7 linked regions of the Homo sapiens genome follow. The gene in region 4 interacts genetically with the main gene of each other region. Each region holds a gene or a part of one and is shown on either strand. Other genes may lie near its edges.

Region 1 (3,500 bases), on a different chromosome or scaffold from region 4:
CCAGAAGCCACCAGCATTTGTGTTTCCTTCCCACTGTTAGCGGGGGGTATGCTGTCGCCACACCAGAGCATAAAAGCCCTGGGCTCAGAGGCCAAGTTGTCGCCTTGCTCCCTCTCTCTCCAAGGCCTCTCCCACAGCACACGCTGAGAGGAAGCCCCTGGCTGGTTCCGAGCCCAGATGTTCAGGTAAGCTGCAAACTCAAGGAGTGACCTTGGGGTCACCTGCTTGCTTTCCTTTTGCTTCTGCCTATTTGGTGCACTGAAAAAACAGTGGTCCAAAATTATAATTTCTAGGGGTGATCATGGTATTGTAGTTATGGGGTTGCTTCTGCTTTTTCCCCAAAGAGTCCCTTATCTTTTAGAGAGATGTACTGAGATATTTATGGATGATGTCTGGGATTTGCTTCAAAATAATCCAGATGGGGGATGGGCTGAGGGTAGAACTGAAACGAGACTGGCTGGGGTAATGGACTCAGGGCTCAGGGGATTCAGGATACCATGCTTTCTCCTTTTGTCCACGTGTGCAATTTTCCAAAAGCGTTTCAAGGAGTAAACGCCCTTTTTCTGTTGTCTTATACTGAAGGACCCTGGAGAGGGCTGATACTCTTCTCCATCACAGAGGAGACACTCTGGGAAAACTATTGGAGGAAACCAGATGGTCTCAAGCAGTCTCTCCTGTAGCCTCTGATTCACATCTTTTAAAAGGAACTCATAGGAAAAATAACGTTGGGGAGTATAATTGTAAACTGAGGTCCTAGCAGTCCTACCAGCAGCTGATTCGCCAAACATCTCTTGGAGCAACCATTCCCAAACTTGCCTGGCCATATGGGTCCCCAGAGCCCTCACTGAAAATCAGACTCCAGGCCCCTCACCCAGCCCTGCCGACACCCTCTCTAGGAGAGGGGCTGGGACCTCTGCCTTTCACATGAACACATGGGAATGCTCCCCCTGAGGAAACATCGATGGGGGTGTGGGGTCTTCTAGTAAACAGAAATACGGGCCGGGCGTGGCATCTCACGCCTATAATCCCAGCACTTTGGGAGGCTGAGGCAGGCGGATCACCTGAGGTTGGGAGTTCAAGACCAGCCTGACCAACATGGAGAAACCCCGTCTCTACTAAAAATACAAAATTAGCCGGGTGTGGTGGTGCAGGCCGGTAATCCCAGCTACTTGGGAGGCTAAGGCAGGAGAATCGCTTGAAACCAGGAGGCAGAGGTTGCGGTGAGCTGAGATCGCACCATTGCACTCCAACCTGGGCAACAAGAGCGAAACTCCATCTCAAAAAAAAAAAAGAGAAATAGGAGCAGCACATCCCACACTGGATAAGACCATGGTGTCAAGTCATCTCATGAGGGAGAAGCCACCCAAGTCAGTGAACATCGTGTGGGCTGTGGTGGAGGAGCCCAGAGTGGAGGTGCCAGGGCAAGGGCCCTAGAGCAGCGTCTCTGGGAGAAGCTTCCTACTCCAGGCCCAGCTTTACCTAGAGACTGCATGGCCTCCTCGCTCTGCTGGACCTGCTGGGCCATCATCCTGCTGATCCCCATGAGGCTCTCAGTGATGGTACTGGATGTCTGGGCCAGGCTCTCTTTGGTGGTTTTCCTAAAAGTTCAGAGGAAGAGAAAGGGGAGGAATGTCAACAAAAGCCTCCCTGCAAGAAGGCCCCACATCCAAATGAGATCTCATGTTTTACCTATCCAATTAGTATACATATTTTAAATGATCACATTCAATGCTGGAAAGGGTGTGCTGAGACCCACGCCCCTGTGGACTGCTAGTAGGAACATAAACCAGTGCTGCCTTCTGTAAAGCAATTTGCCAATTGAAGAGCCTTGGTAATGTTCATTCCTTTGACTCAATCATCTCATCCCTGGAAATCCCTCCAAAGGAAACATCCAAAATGTGGATAAAGCCTTATGTTCTAAGACATGCCCTGGTGTATTACTTACACTACTTAAACACTAGAAATGCAAACACACACAGGGAATTGTATTAACATACAATCTACATACTATGTACTGTTAGAATTAGGCTTAAAAAGCTTTTTTTTTTTTTTTAATGAACAACTTTTGTGCTGAAACAGCAGAATATGAAATTTTATGTATGGTACAATTTTGACTTTGTAAGAAATGTAGAAATAAAAATGAGGGAGAGAATATACCAAAATGTTCATGAGTAATAAGATTTGATATTTTCGGCCGGGCATGGTGGCTCACGCCTATAATCCTAGCACTTTGGGAGGCTGGGGTGGGTGGATCACCAGAAGTCAGGAGTTCAAGACCAGCCTGGCCAACGTGGTTAAACCCCGTCTCTACTAAAAATACAAAAAATTAGCTGGGTGCAGTGGCACGCAACTGTAATCCCAGATACTTTGGAGGCTGAGGCAGGAGAATCACTTGAACCCAGGAGGCGGAGGTTGCGGTGAGCCAAGAGGGCACCACTGCACTCCAGCCTGGGCTACAAGAGTGAGACTTCATCTCAGAAAAAAAAAAAAATTCAATATTTTAATTTTGTAATTCATACTTTATTTTACCAATTTACTACAAATAAGTATGCATTTTTTTCAAACTTAAAAAAATTACTTATGTAATTAAATTAAGCACCAAGCTGAAAACAAGAGGGGGTTTCCTACACCTTGCCAATTGTTATCTATTATTATCGGAGCCCAGAAAAATAAAAGAATAGGTACCTTTGCCTTAAGAGATCTCCTCCCTGAAGAAGTTCTGCTTTCTCTAGATTGTCGATTGCAATTTTGCAGGTGAGATTAGCTTTCCTCCATGAGGCCTGATTGCTGGAATTGGAAGGTTCACGTGTGAGTGTGTCCACTCCACCAAGCCATAAGTCAGTTCAATTCACAGCACTTCCCCCCAACAAAGGCACACGGGAGAAGGCCACCAGGCACGGCCTTCAGAGCCCATCCCACCTCCTGCCACTTCCGCCTCCTGGTTCCCCAGCAACTGTTCTTGCTCAGGTCCTGATACCCCTTGACCGGACCCTGGAGGTCGCCACGGGGAGGCTCTGTTGCTGTCACTCTGCCCCCGTCAGCCCAAGGGGCTGTGAACATGGCACTCCTCTGTGCACAGCTCCACAATGGCTGGACTTCAGGGAGGCATCCAAACTTCCCAGCTGGTCACACAAGGCCCCTCTTCAGTCCAGTTGCCTCTAAGGCTGTACTGCTATGGCCTGTGTATTAATTGGTACCATCCCCGGAGAACCATGACTTACTCATCTCCAGTATCTTGAACAACCATTTCTGGCCCTTCAGCTGCTGAGTTAATATACTTTGTAGGAAATAAAAAATCGTGGCCAGGCACAGTGGTTCACACCTGTAATCATAGCACTTTAGGAGGCCGAGGTGGGGGGATCACTTGAGCCCAGGAGTTCAAGACCAGCCTGGGCAACATGGAGAAACCCCGTCTCTACTAAAAATACAAAAAATTAGCCAGGCATGGTGGTGGCGCATGCCTGTGGTTCCAGCTACCCAGGAGGCGGAGGAGCGAAGAT
Region 2 (3,500 bases), on a different chromosome or scaffold from region 4:
GCTAGTTTTTTTGGTAAAATTAGCCCCAGTACAGACGGGGTTTCTCCATGTTGCCCAGGCTGGTCTCGAATTCGTGAGCTCAAAGCAATCTGCCTGCCTCAGCCTCCCAAACTGCTGGGATTACAGGCATGAGCCACTGTGCCCAGCCTGGAAAAAAAATCCACTTCTAATCTAGCAAATTTTGTGTTCTTGTTTACTATTTTAGCATTAATAACACCAAGTGACTAACATTCTCCTCATGAGCGCTATGCTAGGAATAAAAGCTTGCCACGGTGGAATTATCTAAACTAGAAGAAATCAATACCATGGATCCCAACAAAAATCAACAAAAGGGACCACATGTTCATTTTATCTGATATATTTCTGGAAAAAAATGTTTGCCATAGCAAAATGGAGACGGGGAGCCAAGCAGCAAAATACATCCGTAGTGAGGTACAGAAAACAGTATCCACTAGAAATCTTTTCAGGAAGGGTGCCATTTTGGGTTGGAGAAACTCCTTGAAAGTTAATTTGGGGGAGAAGGAGAGTCCTTGAGGGACCAGGGTAAGGTCAGAACGTTTCCTGGGAGAAAGGGGGAACATTTCTCTGGCTAATAAGGGCACAGTGCCGGACAGGGTGAAGAAGAAAAAGTCAGTCAAGAGTGGTACATTTCAGAGCATGAAAGGCCTCACACTGCATAAAATAGACTACACCTTAAGACTTCCAATTTTCAGTAAGACTCTTAGGCCCATATAAAATTCAGGAGCCTGTGGATTTTTTGGTGTGGAAACCACTGAAGAGGCAGATTGTACATCTAAATTGCAAGGGCGAGACTTAAGTATGAATTGGGAATTTAGAGTGTAGCAAATTAGTCAGACATTAGATAATAAGTAAGCAAAGTTTATGAACAATTCACCAAGAAATACAAATGGCTCTTTAACATATGAAAATATAACTGTGCAAGGAAAAAAAACATGCAAATTAGTTTCCAAGAGATACTTTCCATTTCTTGCATTGGCAAAGAACAAAAATTTCACTGACATAATTGTGAGGACAAATGCATTCACTAGTGGGAATTCATAAAACTTCCATTGAGAGCAGTTTGGCAATAACTACCAAAATTAAAAATGCACATAATCTTTAACTGAATTATTTCAATTCTAGTAATTTATTCTATAGGCATAGATGTGGGAAATGACTTTACATACAAAGGTATTCAATGCAGCATTATTTGTAATAACCAATGCCTAAAACCAACCTAGATAGAGGTTAAATAAATTATAAGTCCATATTATATGGCGCATGAAAAAGAAAGAGGCAACTATTTACATATTAATATTGAATAATTGCCAAGATATATTATTAACAGATAAAGTGCAGAAAATGCATATAGTATCTGTATTAATAAAAAGGCAAAAATAAAGAGGAATATTATATACATAATTGCTTGTATACTTAGAAAATATTTCTGGAAGGATATTCAAAATGCTAAAAGTGGTTCTAAAGAGGAGAACTGGGTAGCGGGGGGACAGGGAAGAGAAGACTTTTTACTCTATACCTTTAATACATTTTGAATTTTGTACTATATGGATGTATTACCTACTCCAATAATAGCGACTAAGAAAGTGAAAAGCACAACATACCAAGAATTGTGATAAATGCTAAGAAGGAGAAATATAGAACAGTTAGAACAAACAATGGGGAGCCAATCTAGACTTGTTTGGACAGGGAAATTTTTCCTGGGTAAGAGATGTTTAAAATGAGACCTAAAGGGTAAGGCATTAGCTTAGGGAAAGGGGATGAAGACATGTGCAGGCCAGGAAAGAATTCTAAGGCAAAGGAAGAACTTGTGCAAAGGCCCTGAGGATGGAAGAATCTCAGCCAGTTTGCAGCACAGAATGAAGACCAGTGTGAAAAGAGAAAAAGGTAACAGGGTTGGTTGCAATAGGAGAAGAGGTAGGAGTGCAGATCCACAAAGGCCATATGAGGAATTTTATTTTAAGGGCATTGGGAAGGCACTAGAGAATTTTGAGCAAGGAATGGCATGGTCAGAATGAACACTTAATAAACTCATGTTAGCTCATGAGTAGAGACTGAATTGGGAGGGGGACAAAAATTGATAATCTAGGGTAAACTAAAGGATGCTGCAAATGAGATGATGAAACACTTCACTTGGACTAGTGTGATGGCAAAGGAGATGGAGAAAAAGTAAATGGGTTCTCAAGTTTAGAGGTGGAAAAACCTCCAATACACATGATTGGATATGGGGGAATGAGGGAAAGGGAAATGGATGTTAAAGGAAGATTGCCAGGTTTCTTACTTTGAAAGCTGCTGGATGAGTGGTACAGCCAATTACTGAAATGGGAAGACTTAAGGACAAAGATGTTTGTAGAAAGCTCATGAGGCTGTTTCCCAATATGTGAAATCTCCCTGAAAGGGGTCCTGTGAGGAGCAAATGACATTCTTTATTCAATAACTAGAAGCCATTGCTATAATGTTTCAAAATCTCTCCTTTGACCTCAGATCTTGTGAGGAAGATAGAACACTTTCTGTACCAGGGCCTTTTTCAATAAGAAAGGACATTGGTTTCTCAAATTGCAATCACTAAACCTAATGTACTTTAATTATATACATAATTAGAACAATCTCTTTTTAAAAAAACATAATAGGTTGGATACTATGGTTCACACCTGTAATCCCAACACTTTGAGATGCTGAGGCAGGAGGATTGCTTGAGCCCAGGAGTTCAATACCAGCCTGAGCAACATAGTGAGACCCGTCTCTACAAAAAATTTTAAAATGAGCCTGGCATGATGGCATGTGTCTGTAGTCCTAGCTACTTGGGAGACTGAGGAGAGAGGCTCTCCTGAGCCCAGGAGCTCAAGGTTGCAGTGAGCTATGATTGCACCACTGAACTCCAGCCTGGGTGACAGAGTGAGATCCACTGTAAAACAAACAAACAAGAAGTATGTTCACAGGAAAATCCCAGAAATCACATAGAACATGTTTCTTGTGTCACAGATGGATCTTCATTTCCCTTAGCAAATCTCCTCAAATGTGACCCTGCTTATCAAGATTATTCAAATCATATAGCTGTGCTGGGCATACAAAAAAAATGGCATTTATCTATTTTTATGGTGGGGGCTGAGGACATAGAAGAGGAATCAGGCATCGGTAACTTTTCAACACCCCCAATATATGTATAAACAAGGAGCTACAGTTGAGTTTTTACATTTTTAATGTTTTATCATTTGTACTGACAAGGTCCATAGCCAGCTTTGTTCTGATGCCACCTGCTGGACAAGTCTGTAACATCTTATTTCTCTTTGGAAGTGTCCAGTCCTCCCAAAACCTATACCACAAACGCTTGAGAGTCCAGCCAACACTGGGAAATATCACTTCAAAATAATATGAAGCTTCACTGGACTTCATGGAGGATTTTCAGTATGCCTATTCTTGATGCTACAGATATACTCAATAGCAATCAATGGTGAATGTGGACAAAGGCATAATACTGCATT
Region 3 (3,500 bases), on a different chromosome or scaffold from region 4:
AAGAAAATGTTCGTCATATTTTTATCCAGCATTTCTCTGCCAAAATGTCAGAACTGAAAATCCCACATATATTCAAAACTAATTTATCATGCATGCTGCATGCTTATAAAATATTGGTCAAGGCTGGGCACAGTGGCTAATGCCTGTAATCTCAGCACTTTGGGAGGCCAAGGTGGGTGGATCATTTGAGGTCAGGAGTTTGAGACCAGCCTGGCCAACATGGTAAAACCTGTCTCCACTAAAAATACAAAAATTAGCCAGGCATGGTGGCACATGCCTGTAATCCCAGCTACTTGGGAGGCTGAGGCAGGAGAATCACTCGAACCCAGGAAGTGGAGATTGTAGTGAGCTGAGGGTGCACCACTGCAATCCAGCCTGGGTGACAGAGTGAGACTCCGTCACACACACACACACACACACACACACACACAAAGAATTAGGATCTTATATGAATCCCACTTTGTTCTCTACTCTGTCACACCCCCAATTATTTTTTATTTTTTTGAGACGAAATATTGCTCTGAAGCCCAGGCTGAAGTGTAGTGGCGCAATCTCGGCTCACTGCAACCTTTGCCTCCCGGGTTCAAGTGATTCTCCTGCCTCAGCCTCCTGAGTAGCTGGAATTACAGGCGCACGCCACCATGTCCAGCTAATTTTTGTATTTTTAGTAGAGATGGGGTTCATCATGTTGGTCAGGCTGGTCTTGAACTCCTGACCTCGTGATTCACCTGCCTCGGCCTCCCAAAGTGCTGGGATTACAGGTGTGAGCCACCGTGCCCAGCCCCATCCCTAATTATTAAAATAATTTTTAAATAATTTTTTCTTTTTTTTAATTTAACCTATGCTTCAGACATCCAATCATCAGGAATGTATCTGAGAACATGAATCCCACTGCTGCAACCAGTTCATAAGTGCTAAAGCAGGAAGTACTCTTTACTCAAGGTAAAAAGGCAATGAAAACTTTATACAGTTGCTCCTCAATTTACATTCCAATAAGCCCATTATAGATTGAAAAATACTGTAAGTCAAAAATGCATTTAATACAGCTAACTCACAGAACAACATAGCCTAGCTTAGCCTACCTTAAAAGTGCTCAGAATACTTACATTAGCCAACAGTGGCAAAATCACCTAATACAAAGCCCACTTTATAATAAGAAACTTATTTAATTCATGTAACTTACTAAATTCTGTACTAAGCATAAAAAAAAGAATGGTTGTTATGGGTACTTAAAGTATGGTTTCTACTGTGTATCGCTTTCGCACCATGGTAAAGTCAAAAAATTCTAAGTTGAGGGCTGGGCACAGTGGCTCACACCTGTAATCCCAGTACTTTGGGAGGCCGAGGCAGGAGGATCATGATGTCAAGAGATCGAAACCATCCTGGCCAACATGGTGAGACCCTGCCTCTATTAAAAATGCAAAATTAGTTGGGAGTGGTGGCGCATGCCTGTAGTCCCAGCTACTCAGGAGGCTGAGGCAGGGGAATCGCTTGAACCCGGGAGGCGGAGGTTGCAGTGAGCCGAGATCACGCCACTGCACTCCAGCCTGGTGACAGAGCGAGACTGTCTCAAATTAAAAAAAAAAAAAAAATTATAAGTTGAACCATTGTAAGCTGGGGACCGTCTATATTTAAAACAATATTCCTATTTGCTAAGACTATTTTATTCAAAATTTAACCAGAGTAAAAAGGATTAAAAAAAAATACAAGTATTCCCTTTTGTGTAGCAGCTCTCATTCCGTCCAATATTGTGTTTTCAATATAAAAAAAATGTTTAAAGCAGTATATATAACATATACTGTGATCCACGTACCCCTCCATTTCCAAGCTTACAATTCTAAAATATACAAAAAGTCATGAATAAGTCCTTTAAGGCACAGATTTAATATAAAAGAACTTTACATATACACATATATGTATACACACACACACACACACACACACATATATATATATATATATTTTTTTTTTTTTTTTTTTTGAGACAGGATCTTGCTTTGTTGCCCAGGCTGGAGTGCAGTGGTACAGTCATGCCTATAATCCCAGCTACTTAGGAGGCTGAGGTGGGAAGATCACTAAAGGTCAATTTGAGGCTGTAGCGGGCTATGATTGCACCTGAGAAAAACCACTACACTCCAGCCTAGGCAACATAGCAAGATTTTGTCTCTCTACAAAGTAGGGGGGAAAAGTAATTTGTTTTTAAGAATATATTAGTGGCATTAGAGTATTACTTTCCTGATAATATCAAGAATATTCTCTTGGACAGGTGCAGTGGCTCACATCTGTAATCCCAGCACTTTGGGAGGCCAAAGTGGGCAGATCACTTGAGGTCAGGAGTTTGAGACCAGCCTGGCCAACATGGCGAAACCCCATCTCTACAAAAAAATAAAAAAATCAAGCCAGGTGCCGTGGCTCACACCTGTAATCCCAGGACTTTGGGAGGCGGGCAGATCACAAGGTCAGGAGTTCGAGACCAGCCTGGCCAATATGGTGAAATCCCGTCTCTACTAAAAATACAAAAATTAGCCGGGCGTTGGTGGTAGGTGCCTGTAGTCCCAGCTACTTAGGAGGCTGAGGCAGAAGAATTGCTTGAACCCAGGAGGCAGAGGTTGCAGTGAGCCGAAATCACACCACTGCATTCTAGCCTGGGTGACAGAGCGAGACTCCATCTCAAACAAACAAACAAAAAATCAGACAGGCATGGTGGCGTGCAGCTGTAATCCCAACTACTTGGGAGGCTGAGGTACGAGAATCCCTTGAACCTGGGAGGCAGAGGATGCAATGAGCCAAGATTGCGCCACTGCACTCTAGCTTGGGCAACAGAGCAAGACTTTGTCTCAAAAAAAAAAAGAATATTCTCTTGATAACTGTCTCTGTTTAGTATACATGCTAAAAGAAGAGAAAGAAATCACTGCTTGTCTATCAATAGGAGCCGGTTATATAAATGATGTCAAATCCACCAATGGACTAACACGCAGCTAAGATAAAGGATGGGACAACTCCATGTGTGACTCATTCTATTTGAATTATGGCATATTTACATATTACATTTTTAAAACTTTCAATGTCAAAGAAAGCAAAGAAAGAAGAAACAAATTACAAATTTTAGGAGTAAACACTAACTCAAATGTAAATAGTATGGTACTAACTGAACATGTGTCAGCTCAATTTTGAGTCTCTACAAGTCAGTCTAAATATGCTGCGCAGACACCAAAAAGATCAGTAGTAAAATTATTTATTAGTCCTCCACCTCCAGAAATTGTTTTTGCCTTTGCATGACCTGTGCTTTATTACTGCAACATAGTCATATTTGATAGCTTAAAGAAGAGACATTACCACTTAGGAGTTGCTTCATATATTTCCTGGTCAGATTTGACCAAAGAGGATGCTATTGCCATGAGACAACAAAATAAATAAATAAATGTGTTCTATTATAATGGGAAGCTGACTCTGAAGACTATAGATACTATACAAATGTTTCAACTTCAAATAGGTTTTGC
Region 4 (3,500 bases):
CCCATGTTGGTCAGGCTGGTCTCGAACTCCTGACCTCAGGTGATCCACCTGCCTCAGCCTCCCAAAGTGCTGGGATTACAGGCATGAGCCACTACACTTGGCCTAGAAGACATGGTTTTTAAGACTTTATCCCATCCTAATCCTGTGTGCTGTAGTGGATCCACATTGCAAAGGAAGCATGCAACACCGCCTGCCAGAGCCCAGCATGGGCCGTGGGGAAAGGACCGTTGCAATCACTGCTGTTATAGGCAGGGTCCTCAGGGAAGGAGGCATCCATCTGCATCTTTACCTCTGACCTAAACTCAGAAGAGTAGTGTGGAGGTCCTGGGCTTTCCACATCAAAGGCACATGTTTAATTGACTCTGTGTTTATTTGGAGTAGCATGGTTTCCCTGAAGCCACCCATTCACTGCCTCTCCCAAGGGTGACTGCAAGGACAATCTTGTTTCAGCCACCACCACTCAACCATGATGGTCTCCAAGATAATTAATTCCATGGCCTCCCCAAATTTCCTCTGCCTCCTAGCACTGATTCTTAACCCCACCAGCACTTTCTATTTATTAGGGAAATTAAAAAAAAAAAAAAAACCCAGGCCAGGCACAGTGGCTCACACCTGTTATCCCAGTACTCTGGGAGGCCGAGGCAGGCAGATCACTTGAGCCCGGGAGTTCAAGACCAGCCTGGGCAACATAGTGACACTCCATCTCTACCAAAAAACTATTTAAAAAGCCGGGCGTGGTGGTAGGCACCTGTAGTCTCAGCTACTTGGGAGGCTGAGGTGGAAGGATCGCTTGAGCCCAGGAGGTCGAGGCTACAGTACACCATGATTGCACCACTACACTCAAGCCTGGGCAACAGAATGAGGCTTTGTCTCTAAAAAAAAATTTAGACCAGGCGTGGTGGCTCACGCCTGTAATCCCAACACTTTAGGAGGCCGAGATGGGCAGATCACTCGATGCCACAAGTTCAAGACCAGCCTCAGCAACATGGTGAAACCTAGTCTCTAAAAAAAAAAAGCCAAGTAGAGGCTCGCTCCTGTAGTCTCAGCTACTTGGGAGGCTGAGGCGGTGGAAGGGTGGCTTCCGCTCCAGAGGCAGAGATTGCAGTGAGCCAAGATCATGCCACTGCACTCCAGCCTGGGTAACAGAGTAAGACCCTGTATCAAAAAAAAAAAAAAATTAAAAATTTTTAAAAACTTACAGGTGAAACTAGGGTGCTGCTAGGGTTAAGAACTGATTCTAGGCCAGGTGCAGTGGCTCACACCTGTAACGCCTGTAATCCCAGCGCTTTAGGAGGGCGAGGCAGATGGATCACAAGGTCAGGAGTTCCAGACCAGCCTGACCAATATGGTGAAACCCCGTCTCTACTAAAAATACAAAAATTAGCCAGGGATGGTGGCATGTGCCTATAATCCCAGCTACTTAGGAGACTGAGGCAGGAGAATTGCTTGAACCTGGGAGGCAGAGGTTGCAGTGAGCCAAGATGGTGCCACTGCACTCCAGCCTGGGCAACAGAGAGAGACTCCATCTCAAAAAAAAAATGAACTGATTCTACCAGTTAACCACTGGCCCCTCAAGGTCTTGCTTCCCTTGGCCCCCATAGCTTTACTCCTCTGCTCTGCCCTCATCCTCCTTCCCTTCCTTCCTTGCCTGTCATCTCCATATTTTGAACCCCTCAGCCCCTCAGCATCCCTGTCATCCAGGGCCCTCTCCCTGGATGCCATGGGCCTATTACCTCCTTGGAAGCAAATCTCTATTCTCCAGACCCATCTCCCCGACAAGTTCCAGACTGGAATTTCCACCGCCCACAGGACAGGCAGATCCACCTGCTCCACCCATACCAAGAACGTACCCGGGCTGACTGTGCTCAGCACGTCTTCCCTTGAGCCAGCTGCTCCTCTCAGGCCAGGCACTCAGCATCATCGTCACTCACCAAGTTCTGAATGCTCTTCCCTTTTGGGCTCACTGCCACCCTCCTCGGGCATGGCACCCCTCCCAGAACCCAGTCCCCCTGCCACTAATGAAAGCTTTAGGCCATGCCAGCAAACTAGACACCTTCAAGACCAAGACGAACTGGTATAGAAGACAAGGGGATGTGGGGATTGGAGCAAACTAGAGAAAGCACACAGGAGAACACATGCCGTCTTGCAGAAGTTGCATCCACTCAGCTTCAGCCAATTGTTGCTATGCGGGAACATGGACCCAAATCTTACAATTTCCCAAGCCATGCTAGAAATCTAGGTTTTAGTGTGAAATCTCTTTGTTAAATTTAGGAGACTTAATTGTAAAACATTTTCAAAATACTGTCAGTGAGCTGCCAGTTTTCAATTTCTGCTTCTGAATAGCCTTTGGAAGACCTCTGTCACCTTTTTTTTTTTTTTTTTTTTTGAGATGGAGTTTCGCTGTTGTTGCCCAGGCTGGAGTGCAATGGTGCAATCTCAGCTCATCGCAACCTCTGCCTCCCAGGTTCAAGCGATTCTCCTGCCTCAGCCTCCCGAGTAGCTGGGATTACAGGCATGTGCCACCACATCCAGCTAACTTTGTATTTTGAGTAGAGATGGGGTTTCTCCATGTTGGTCAGGCTGGTCTCGAACTCCAGAACTCAGATGATCCTCCCCCTTGGCCTCCCAAAGTGCTGGGATTGCAGGTGTCAGCCACCATGCCCGGCCTCCTCTGTCACTTTTATAGCCATCCTCTGCTCAGAGGAAAGAGCTGACACCTCTCTGCCCAGTCTCGAGGCCCCAGTCCACACTGTCTACAACTATCTACAGCCATCTTCATACCTAATGCCAAAAGAGGCTCCCCACATTAGTTAACCCTTGGAGTGATTCACTCTAAATTTGGCCGTAGCACACTAGAGACAAAGAAACACAAACACAACCCAGAAATAAGTTTCAGGCCCATCCCTCCCCTTCCCACCCAAGTCACCACCATTGCAGGAAACTTCTTCTCCCTTGCCCTACCCCTCTCACCAGTTCCACACACCAGCCCACAGTCCAGGCCCGCTGGAGACTATCAGCATCCTGTTTCCTTGGCTCCACCAGCTCCCGGAATGCTACTACCACCGTCAAACCCCGGTTATACTTGCCTCCAATGGCATTGTACTCCAGGACCTGGAGGGCAAGGAAAGAGGTACAGGGTATCAGGGTCCATACAGCAGCTACTGTGAGTTTTCTCCTTGCTCTCTCCCATTTCCAACCACCACCTAACTTTATCCTCCCCAACCCCAACTCCTCTTCAAGGAGCCTCTGGAATTGCTACTGTCTTTACTCCTTCCCCAAATTTCTGGAGCAAAGCTAGAAGAGGTCCCAGTACCCAGGCACATTCTTTCTGCATGGTCTACCCTAGTAAATTTATTTTTTGTTTTTATTTATTTATTTATTTATTTATTTTTTTGAGATGAATTCTCTCTCTGTTACCCAGGCTGGAGTGCAGTGGCACGATCTTGGCTCACTGCAACCTCTGTCTCCGGGTTCATGAAATTCTCCTGGCTCAGCCTCTC
Region 5 (3,500 bases), on a different chromosome or scaffold from region 4:
ATTACCTCTGGCCTTTTCATGACTACTGTCAACTTCTTTACCATCCTTGTCATCTGATTTATTTTCGTCCTTCTTTTTTATGTCTTTACTACTATGCTTTAAGCTTCTGCTTTTGTGGCCATCTGACAACTTTCTCTCAAGCCTGGTGGAAGTGGAGTCTTTATCACTCTTATATTTCTCCTTTGCTAATGGTAACTTGGCTCTATGACTAGAATCCTTCTGTGTACTATGTGCTGAAGAAGAAGCAGTCTCTAATACAGGTTCAACACCAGTTTCTTCAAAAGGTTTGTCTTCAACTTTAGACTTACGCTGTTTTTCTGAGTCATTTTCTTCTGTGTTCTTCTCCTTGTCTGGTTTTGGAGTGGTTGCCTGTTTTGTGGCACCTTCTTGTAATTCTGTTTCTACAACTTTTACCTGTTTGCCTTGAGTTTTTGATTTAGACTTCAACACAAGTTTCTCTTCTAACAAGCTCTTTGTTCGTCGTTTCTCCTTGTGAACAACCTCTTCTGGTTTCAAATTACTATCCATGTTAGTGGAGTCCATATCACACTTATCTTCCGAATAACTTTCACTTCTTCTCTGTAATGTGATACCATGTTGCTTGGAACCCAGAGAATCTTTCTGAATTTTAGAATCACTTGACCTTCTTGATTTGTGCTCTGCCTTAGTTTTTTCAGCTGACAAGCGTCTCTCTTTTTTGTTGTTTTCTTTACGAACATTCTCATCTGTTTTTATAATATATTCAGAAACTGGCTTTCCATCTTTGCCTAATACTGATAATTTCCTTTCATTCCTATGTTTACTTTTTCGTTCGGTTTTATCATCTGAAGAAAGCTTTGTTTGTTGACTTTGCTTTTGAATATTTTCCTCTACTTTTAAACCTTTCTCAGAAGAGTGAAGCTCAGTCTCATCACCTGTTTTATGCATACAATCACCTTTATATTTATGTTTCACAGACAATTTGTCTTCCGATGGAGTTTTCTCTCTTTCAGGCTTCTCCTTGGAGGATTTCACCTCTTTCTTAAGTAGGCTTTTCAAATGTGGTGTTTCAGAATCATCTTTCTTTAGATGCTTTTCGTTTTTAAGTGTGCTTTTCTGTTTCTGGGGCTCTTCGGTGCAAATTTCTGAGCGTTCTACTTGCCTTTTTACATCTCTTGTGTCAGTCTCTTCCTGTACCCCCTCCATGATAACAGGGGTAGATGTCCGTCTTTTATGTTCTCTTTCTAATTTGGATTCATTTTTGTTTTCGTCAACTACATGCAAAGACTCTGAAAGTCTCCGGGCAGGTTTACTTGGTTCACTTTTTGCATGAACATGCTTCAGCTCCTTTGAAGAAGAAATTTTTTCCTTTTCACAATGCTGAAAGAAAACAAAGGTTAAAATATGAGAAATACCAAAATCAATTTTTAGATTAAAACATAACATTTGGGTGGATTTAATATGTTGAGTGCTGTCACATATGTAACATCTCACTTAATTCTTACAAACAGCCTGTGTAGGTGTCAAAAACTCACCTGATTTTAAAAAATAAGTATTATTAACTTGATTTTAAGAAGCTAAATTCTTCAAAGAACTAACAGGAGTTTGCAACAACCATATTTTACAATAAAAAAACTAATTCTAAACAATATGAACAATTTTATGAGATTATTTCTCATAGAGATTTATCACAAAATAAAGTTAAATACTTAAAAATATGCCATTAAAACATCAGGAAATTGTAGCTCAGCATGATTCTATAACTTGACACTCAGACCACAAGTAGGTGTGTTAGGAATGAGTTTAGATTATTTCATTCCGAGTCTAGTACTCCTTCCAGTATATCACAGGCACTGATTTGTCTATGAATTCTTCAATTCTGAATCACTAGAACTCACTAATGCCCAGTACTCAATAATAAATATGAGCTGAATAAATGACAGTCAAATGTCCTTTTCAGTCAAAAACATAATACATGAAGGCAATTTAAAATTGAAATATACTGAAATATAGATTTCCTATATTTTAATTTAAAAAGCTGAATTATGTATGGAAACCTCATGAATTTAGGCTACTTGTACAATATTCTACACATGAAGCTTCAAATGTACACAATAACGCACAGTAACCATATCATATATAACATATGTATATGTTTATGTATTCAAAAAAAGATACGGAGAGACAAGAGCATCTAAACCTTCCTTCTGGCCCTGTGGTTTGGCACTAAGTAGGCGATTAATATTAATGAGTGGAGGTTGACTAAATCCACTTCAATAATACTCACTGACTACTAGCTATAATTATTCTTATGCAAATAATGGGCCAAAGTTCAGACGGACCTTTGTGCCTCTAGGTCAGTTTAACACTTCATCTCCTTAAATGTCAACACAAAGATTAATGTACTTCTACTAATAACAGGGTCCAGGACATAACAAGACCTTATTAAATAGCTTAAAATAAAATTCCTCAAAGAACTAACAGGAGTTTGCATCAACTTCACAATAAAAAACTAATTCTAAGCAATGTGAATACTATTTTATGAGATAATTTCTTATAGAGAATTATCATAAAAGAAAGTTAAATATTTAAAAATATGTCATTAAGCCATCACTATATACTTCTAAATACGCCTTTAATTTCTGAGTAAATAAATTAAATTTATGTTTGCTGATGATGAACAAATAATCACTAACATTGCTTTTTCCCTCTGGAAATATTAAGATAGTTTAGCTACAGAACTACAGATAATGTGGTTTTTGTAAAAAAGAATTTTAAAACAGTGAAAGCAAAAGTTTGTCCCACGAAAATAATCCTGAAAGGGGGAAGAAAACATTGTACGTTACTTTTACTGTTTAAAATGATCAAATCTTGGAAACAACCTAAGCGCTAAAATATAAGGACATGCTTAAATAAATTATGGTATGTACATTATATGTAACACTAGACAATCATTAAATAATTAGGATGCCTAGAAGGTAACATGAAATGAGTAAAATGTTAAAAACAGTTTGCCAGATTACTTGTACTCTAAAAAATTATGTGGACCCGTGGATAAGGAATGAGAGGGAATAAAAAGGATAATTTGTTATAGTGGAGGGATTTTAGATTTTAATTTTAGCCTCCCTTTTTCTTTTTTTGTCATTACTGGCATTTTTGTTATTGCAATTATAAGAAATGGGAAAAGAGAAGAAGAGTAGCTATTACCTAGATAAACGACAAATATATAAATCAACTCAACAAAATGGGCAATTTGGGACATAACAAAATGGGGTTTCAAAAATGCTGAATGTAAGTTGACTTTTTATTTGACTTGAAAAAAGTCAAATTACATTCTAAGTTTTACTCCAAAGGAATAAACAGCCTATATCTAACAAAACAGCATTTGAAATGAGGTTTTATTAAGGCATACCTCACTTGTTTTAAGGGTTTCTTTGGAATCTTCTTCATATTGCTGTTTCTTTTTGGAGTTCTCTTCAACATTCCTAAGGGGGAAAGAGTCAAATATAAAGCATGAATCA
Region 6 (3,500 bases), on a different chromosome or scaffold from region 4:
TATAAAAACTAGCCAGGCGTGGTCATGGGCACCTGTAATCCCAGCTACTCAGGAGGCTGAGGCAGGAGAATTGCTTGAACCCAGAAGACAGAGGTTGCAGTGAGCTGACAGGGTGCCGCTGCACTCCAGCCTCAGCAACAGAGTAAGACTCCATCTCAAAAAAAAAAAAATATATATATATATATACAAATATTACAGAAGAATTTCAAATGTACAAACAGAATATGAGTACTGCCTTTTTTTTTTTTTTAAAAGAGTCTCACTCTGTCACCTAGGCTGCAGTGCAGTGGTACAATCACGGCTCATTGCAATCTTAACCTCTCGGGGCTCAAGCGATCCTCCTACCTCAGCCTCCCGAGTAGCTGGGACTATGGGTGCTCACCACCAAGCCTGGCTGATTTTTTTTTTTTTAAACAGAGATGGGGTTTTGCCATGTTGCCCAGACTGGTCACAGAATTCAGAGCTCAAGCGATCTGCCCACCTCAGCCTCTCAAAGTGCTAGGACTACGGCATGAGCCACCATGCCCGGCAGGAGTACTGCTTTTAAGGAAGGAATGAAATAGATTTCCTCACAACACTAAAGTATGAATGACATTTACAACATAGGAAAAGCTAGAGAAACAAGGTTCACTCAGAGTGATAGTGCTATACTATAGTATCCAAGAAACAGAGCTAATGTAAGGATGCTAATTCTAGCAAGAAGAAACTACTTGAAAAAAAGACAATGTACATCAGAATAAAAATAGGCCATTATAAAAAAATTTAGAGATGAAGAAAATCCCAGAAGCTCTAAAGGAAAGCTGGAAATGGAGAGATTATCATAAAAGACCTCAGGGAAATAACACATTATTAAAGACAGAAAAATAACTGTGCTCTACCTGCTTATGAATTTGATCCCTATTTCTAATATAAATCCCTCGGCATATTTCCCTTATAAACAATTCAGATATCTGAAGAGTTTATCAAGGCCAGGTGCAGTGGCTCACACCTGTAATCCCAGCACTTTGGGAGGCCAAGGCAGGCAGATGACTTGAGGTCAGGAGTTCAAGACCAGCCTAGCCAACATAGTGAAACCCTATCTCTACTAAAAATACAAAAATTAGCTGGGCGTGGTGGCATACACCTGTAGTCCTAGCTACTCGGGAGGCCAAGGCAGGAGAATCGCTTGAACCCGGGAGGTGGAGGTTGCAGTGAGCTGAGATTGTGCCACTGCACTCCAGCCTGGGCAACAGAGGAAGATTCCAACTCAAAAAAAAATAAAAAGAAAATTAAAATAAATAAAATAAATGTTAAAAAAAAGAAGAAAAAAGAAAAGTTTATCAATAACCATGGACCTAATTTAGTTAATCTATTACTTTGGCTACTACAAGAGTGAGGTTTTCAAATAACGTATTTTACTTAATAAAGTTATTAACATTGCCCCTTACTGATATTTCCTTTCTGAGGGACAAGGAGAAATGCAGTAAAATAAAGCAAGGTTTAAAATTCCTTCACTGCAAATAATTTATCTAAACAAGAATGAGATGTTCTAAACCACTTTATATGTAAAACTCCTCATACATGCAAAACAAAGTTTTTTTGTTTTTTTTGTTTTTTTTTTGAGACGGAGTTTCGCTCTTGCTGCCTAGGCTGCAGTGCAATGGCACAACCTCAGCTCACTGCAACCTCTGCCTCCCGAGTCCAAGCAATTCCCCTGCCTCAGCCTCCCAAGTAGCTGGGATTACAGGCACGCGCCACCATGCCTGGCTAATTTCTTTTTTTTTTTTGTATTTTTAGTAGAGACGGGGTTTCACCATGTTGGTCAGGCTGGTCTCAAACTCCTGACCTCGTGATCTGCCCGCCTCGGCCTCCCAAAGTGCTGGGATTACAGGTGTGAGCCACTGCACCTGGCCTAAAAACAAAGATTTCTATATTATATTGATATGTAAAATTCTTTAAAATTTTGGGAAATATATGCAAGAAAAAGAAATACATAAAACATATCCATAACAAAAGTAATATCAGGTTTATTAACTATGATACATTTGAAACAGGACATTAAGACTCCCAGAAGACTTTTCTCCCTCAGGTTTTCCAGGCAAAATTAATGGTTGCTGACAGCTCTGCAGCAAGTACTAGTTAAAACAATGCAAGGATAGTGGGGACCTTATCATCTACTAATCTAGGTGGAAATGTTACTTTGGGTTGTCTGAAAGGCAAAGCTAGATACAATTAACTACCAGTGATAGGTATTCAACTCAAAAAGAACTAAGGTCAAGCCTTACTTCCTTTTTTGTTTTTCCTACCCAGAGGTAGCAGAACTCTTGTTATTCATCCAAGAATACTGTGTAGCTCTTATGATTCCCACTGAAAAATATTCAAATTATACAAAAGCAATCCATTTCATTAACTGACCAGTTCTAAAAATTAAATAAGAATAACTATTACCAAACTTTGTGTTTTATTAATTTGGCATTACAAAGAATAGTTTTTATCATGTGTTCATAATCCAACTGTAAGACTTAAAAGTTTGGCCGGACGCGGTAGCTCATGCCTGTAATCCCAGCACTTCCAGCGGCCGAGGCTGGCGGACAGTGAGGTCAAGAGATCGAGACCATCCTGGCTAACATGGTGAAACCCCGTCTCTACTAAAAATACCAAAAAAAAAAATTAGCCAGGCATGGTGGCGGGCGCCTGTAGTCCCAGCTACTCGGGAGGCTGAGGCAGGAGAATGGCATGAACCCGGGAGGTGTAGCTTGCAGTGAGCCGAGATGGCACCACTGCACTCCAGCTGGGCGACAGAGCGAGACTCCATCTCAAAAAAAAAAAACTTAAAAGTTTAACGTACTTACATTACCTTCTTTCAAATGCTAATTAAGCTCCCTGAAAAGCTTATGTTCACTCACAATAAAGGAAAAGAATCATTATCATAATGCTATTTTCACAACAACTGGTAAAATTATATTATTATAATCTTTAATTAACTCAATTATTTAATGGCACACATGTACTCTCTAAGACAGAAGCCTCAAAGGAAAATAGTAATTGTGAGAACAAAGAGGCCCATTTTACCTTAGTTCTTCAATTTGTGAAATCCATTTAAGGTAAGCAAGATGACGTTCGATCTCTTCAATCTGGCTAATCATGGTTCCAAGATCGTCCATCCAAGGTTGCGCAGTCAGCAAATGGCTGTTAATGGCGCTGAAGAGATGAGTTTCCTGCTCCAGAAACTGATTAAGAAATTGCTTTGATTCTTCTGCATTTTTTAAGGCACTTCGAATTCTTTTAGGAATTTCTGATGAAATTGTAAGTACCTGACCATAATTTTAAAAAAGAAAGAAAGAAAGAACAGCAGCAATCAGATAAAATTTTCATAATTTTTTTTTTGAGAGGGGATCTCACGCTGTTGCCCAGGCTGGAGTGCAGTGGTACCATCATAGCTCACTGCAGCCTGGACTTCCTGGGCTCAACCAATCCTCCCACCTCAACCTCCCCAGTAGTTGGGACTACACATATGCACC
Region 7 (3,500 bases), on a different chromosome or scaffold from region 4:
TTTGAAGTACCTACTGAATATGCTAATGTCTTGCTAAACACTGTGAGGGCAGTAATGGAGAAGGCAGCTCTATCTTCAAAGAACTTAAAATTGTTAGGGATTTAGGAACAATCCATATGAAAATTATTAGATAGAAGAGAATAGTAGATGAGTTTTTTTCATCTGCTATCTTGAGCTATTTTTCCTAATGGGAGAGTATCATTCCTCAAGGAGATTATGGTTAAAAAAATAAACATTGAGAACCATTGCAGTAAATGACAAAGTAGCTAACTGAGTTGTAAACTGTTTTGGAATTTAGTGTAGTATTTTCAAAACTTTGGATTGTAACTCACAGTAAAAAACAAAACATTTTACAGACATGTGTATATATGTGGATACACATAAAATGATACAAAAGTTTACGAAATAATGTCTTTGAAAGCATCCATTTGCACTCTAATCTTTCTTTTATTCCAGATTCTTTCCCTATCCCTGCCTCCCTCCCTCCCTTCCTTCCTCCCTTTCTTCCTCCCTCCCTTCCTTCCCTCCCTCCTTGCTTCCTTCCTTCCTTTCTCCCTCCCTTCTTTCCTGCCCTCCTCCCTCCCTCCCCTCCCTCTCCCCCTCCCTCCGTCCCTTCCTCCTTCCTTCCTTCCTTCCTTCCTATTCCATTCACAGCCTGCTAATATTATTTTACAACTCTGTGGATACCGTGCTGTTCACCGGGATTGCAGTGATGAGTAGGCAGACATGGTTCCAGCTTCCAAAGATCCTACAATCAATTGAGAAAGATAGACAAATAAAGAAGTAATATGATAAAATATGATAAATACTCTGATAGGTAAAGTATAGGCAGTAGAGGCCATTCATTCAGTTATTCATAAAGCATTTATTCAGCACCTCTTTGTGCTAGGAACCGTTGTAGGCATTAGAGATTCTGCAGTGAACAAAGCTAAATTACATTTCTCATTGAGTTGACTTCTTGGTGTGGGTGGGAGTGGTAAGTGTATATAAGAAATAAGAAGTAAACATAATAATCAGTTAATTTCAGATACTGATTAATGAGATGATAGTAAAACAGGATCATGTGATAAAGATGAATGAGAAAATAACCTTGGATTGGGTAGCCAGGAAAGGCTTCTCTGAGAAGCCAACATTTGAGCTGAACCCTAAATAGTATTAAGAGCTAGTAATGTGAGATCTGTGGCCTGAACATTCTCGGCAGAGGGAATTAGAAAGTTTGTATCCTGTGGAAAAGGCACGCATCCTTGGTCTTACAGGATTAGGGAAGTCTTCCTGAAGAGAGAAGAATGAAAGACAGTTTATAGCCAAGAGGAAATCACACTAGTATGCTAGAGGATTTTTTAATTTTATTTTTTATTTTTTGAGACGGAGTCTTGCTCTGTTGCCCAGGCTGGAGTGCAGTGGTGTGATCTTGGCTTACTGCAACCTCTGCTTCCCAGGTTCAGGCAATTCTGCCTCAGCCTCCCGAGTAGCTGGGATTACAGCATACCCAGCTAATTTTTTTTTTTTTTTTTTTGTATTTTTAGTAGAGATGGGGTTTCACCATATTGGCTAGACTGGTCTCGAACTCCTGACCTCAGGTGATCCGCCTGCTTTGGCCTCCCAAAGTGCTAGGAATACAGGCTGAGCCACCATGCCCTGCTGGCTAGAGGATTTTAAAAGAGGAAAAGGTCAGTGTGAGTTAAAAGTGGTTGAGGCAGGTTTTATGGAGGTGTGAGATTTGGAGGGTGAGTAGGAGTTAGATGTATGGAAAGGTGGAAGAGGAACCTTTAGGCAGAGTAAGGTATAAGCAATGATGTGGATATGGGAATGGGAAGCCCTCTTGGGACTTATATTTCACAGGGAACAGTTGAAGAGATCTGGGGCCAAACTAAGAAAGGCTTTGCTTGAGAGAAGAGGATAATGTAGGCAGTGAGAAGCAGGGATTAGTGATGTGATAAAATCAACATCTGGCTTGAAAAACTAACCAAGTGGAATGACAGAATAGAGAACTGTGTGTCATTGGACCTTTAGATCTTTAGTCTGCCTCCTATTTTCAAGTGTGAGTTAAGATAATTACCAATGCACTTTTTTTTTTTTGTCAGTTTCCTGATTGACTTCAGAACTTCTGGCAGTTGTAGAATTTTCTTTTTGCTAAGTTGCTTTCCCCCCCCACTGCATGTATAATTGCAGAACGCTAATGTTGCTTTGCAGTTACCTGCCTGCTTAGTTATCCAATTGCTAGAGCACTGAGGTTTCAGTCCCAGTGCCAGCCAGTTAATTTACCCCATTTCAGAGTTAAATGCTGCAGATGTGAGCCTGATGAGAAAATTATCACAATGGTGATCAGAAAGAGAGGGGCTAACATATCAGTGTAGAAGAAAAAGCAACTTGTTCTAGTGATAATGGGTTAATAGTGATGTCTTATTGTTCATTTATTCTTCATCAAATGTTTGAGAACTTGCCTTGTTCTAGGCACTAAATTTGAGAATACAGATGTGAATCAGAGGGCCAAATAAATGTAAACATATTTAGCATGTTTCTTATTGGTTACTTCAGGTTGAGTATCCCTTATTCAAAATGCTTGGGCCCAGAAGTGTTTCGGATTTTGGATTTGTTTCAGATTTTGGAATATTCGCATTATACTTACTGGTTGGGCATCCCTAATCAGAAAATCCAAAATCTGAAATGGTCCAAGGAACATTTTCTTTGAACATTGTGTTGGCATTGAAAAAGTTTTGGATTTTGGAGTGTTTTGGATTTTGGAATTTTGGATTAAGGATACTCAGCCTATAGTTACAATGGATTGTAGGTGCACAAAAGAGACAAAAACTAAATCAGTGTGAGACACTAACATTTATTGAGTGCCTATTGTGTATCACATACTGTGATTTTTTTTTCCCCCATAGGAGCAGCTTTATTTTATAACGAGGTATAGTTGTAACTATGCCAAAGTTGTTACAACAAAAGCACTTTTTACCTTATCTAATTTTATTGTCACAGTAAACTGATTAGGCAAGTAAAATAGATATAATAATTAACCCCTTTCTACAAATGAAGATCTGTGAAATGACTGATTGTGTTTTGTGGCTTGTCTAAGGTTAAGGCTGTTTGGTGGTTGGATATATTCACTATTCCTGGTAAGAATAAATAAAGGTCGGATGAGCTACTATTTGAGGTTAAACTAAGAGTAGTAAGACTTTTTTGTCTAGAAGGACAAAGATATAATCTAAGTCCAAAATCATGAAAAATATTAGGTAAAATATATAGTATGTCAGATGGGGTAAGTGCAATGGAGAAAAAGCACAGAAGGGGAAGGGGGATAAGAAGAGCAAGGGTCCTATTTGGGGCATTGCAATTTAAAATGGAATCATCAGGGAAAGCCACATTGAGAAGGTGATGACATTGAGCAAAAGACCTAAAGGAGATATATAGCAAGAAGGCCAAGTTGTCAAGGTACAATAGGAAGGAAGGTGGGAGAGTTGGAGGTGAAATTGGGAAGTGGGTGCACAGGACAAGTG

What was found.
Region 1: changes in FDPS (region 4) and BNIP1 together harm fitness more than expected from each alone (negative genetic interaction), as found in Homo sapiens cells (one large-scale study listed by BioGRID).
Region 2: changes in FDPS (region 4) and ARIH1 together harm fitness more than expected from each alone (negative genetic interaction), as found in Homo sapiens cells (one large-scale study listed by BioGRID).
Region 3: changes in FDPS (region 4) and EMC7 together harm fitness more than expected from each alone (negative genetic interaction), as found in Homo sapiens cells (one large-scale study listed by BioGRID).
Region 5: changes in FDPS (region 4) and BOD1L1 together harm fitness more than expected from each alone (negative genetic interaction), as found in Homo sapiens cells (one large-scale study listed by BioGRID).
Region 6: changes in FDPS (region 4) and RINT1 together harm fitness more than expected from each alone (negative genetic interaction), as found in Homo sapiens cells (one large-scale study listed by BioGRID).
Region 7: changes in FDPS (region 4) and RRM1 together harm fitness more than expected from each alone (negative genetic interaction), as found in Homo sapiens cells (one large-scale study listed by BioGRID).

Annotation. Positions count from the first base shown.
Region 1 is NC_000005.10:173,158,031-173,161,530, reverse strand, and holds part of BNIP1 (vesicle transport protein SEC20), read right to left. Parts: intron 2,788-3,500; coding exon 2,686-2,787; intron 1,599-2,685; coding exon 1,480-1,598; intron 1-1,479. UniProt on the Homo sapiens protein: As part of a SNARE complex may be involved in endoplasmic reticulum membranes fusion and be required for the maintenance of endoplasmic reticulum organization. Also plays a role in apoptosis.
Region 2 is NC_000015.10:72,599,830-72,603,329, reverse strand, and holds the end of ARIH1 (E3 ubiquitin-protein ligase ARIH1), read right to left. Parts: 3' UTR 343-3,500; downstream 1-342. UniProt on the Homo sapiens protein: E3 ubiquitin-protein ligase, which catalyzes ubiquitination of target proteins together with ubiquitin-conjugating enzyme E2 UBE2L3.
Region 3 is NC_000015.10:34,091,863-34,095,362, forward strand, and holds part of EMC7 (endoplasmic reticulum membrane protein complex subunit 7 precursor), read right to left. Parts: intron 1-3,500. UniProt on the Homo sapiens protein: Part of the endoplasmic reticulum membrane protein complex (EMC) that enables the energy-independent insertion into endoplasmic reticulum membranes of newly synthesized membrane proteins.
Region 4 is NC_000001.11:155,311,866-155,315,365, reverse strand, and holds part of FDPS (farnesyl pyrophosphate synthase), read right to left. Parts: intron 3,112-3,500; coding exon 2,971-3,111; intron 1-2,970. UniProt on the Homo sapiens protein: Key enzyme in isoprenoid biosynthesis which catalyzes the formation of farnesyl diphosphate (FPP), a precursor for several classes of essential metabolites including sterols, dolichols, carotenoids, and ubiquinones.
Region 5 is NC_000004.12:13,603,726-13,607,225, forward strand, and holds part of BOD1L1 (biorientation of chromosomes in cell division protein 1-like 1), read right to left. Parts: intron 3,465-3,500; coding exon 3,392-3,464; intron 1,360-3,391; coding exon 1-1,359. UniProt on the Homo sapiens protein: Component of the fork protection machinery required to protect stalled/damaged replication forks from uncontrolled DNA2-dependent resection.
Region 6 is NC_000007.14:105,542,201-105,545,700, reverse strand, and holds part of RINT1 (RAD50-interacting protein 1), read right to left. Parts: intron 3,294-3,500; coding exon 3,052-3,293; intron 1-3,051. UniProt on the Homo sapiens protein: Involved in regulation of membrane traffic between the Golgi and the endoplasmic reticulum (ER); the function is proposed to depend on its association in the NRZ complex which is believed to play a role in SNARE assembly at the ER.
Region 7 is NC_000011.10:4,097,799-4,101,298, forward strand, and holds part of RRM1 (ribonucleoside-diphosphate reductase large subunit), read left to right. Parts: intron 1-3,500. UniProt on the Homo sapiens protein: Provides the precursors necessary for DNA synthesis. Catalyzes the biosynthesis of deoxyribonucleotides from the corresponding ribonucleotides.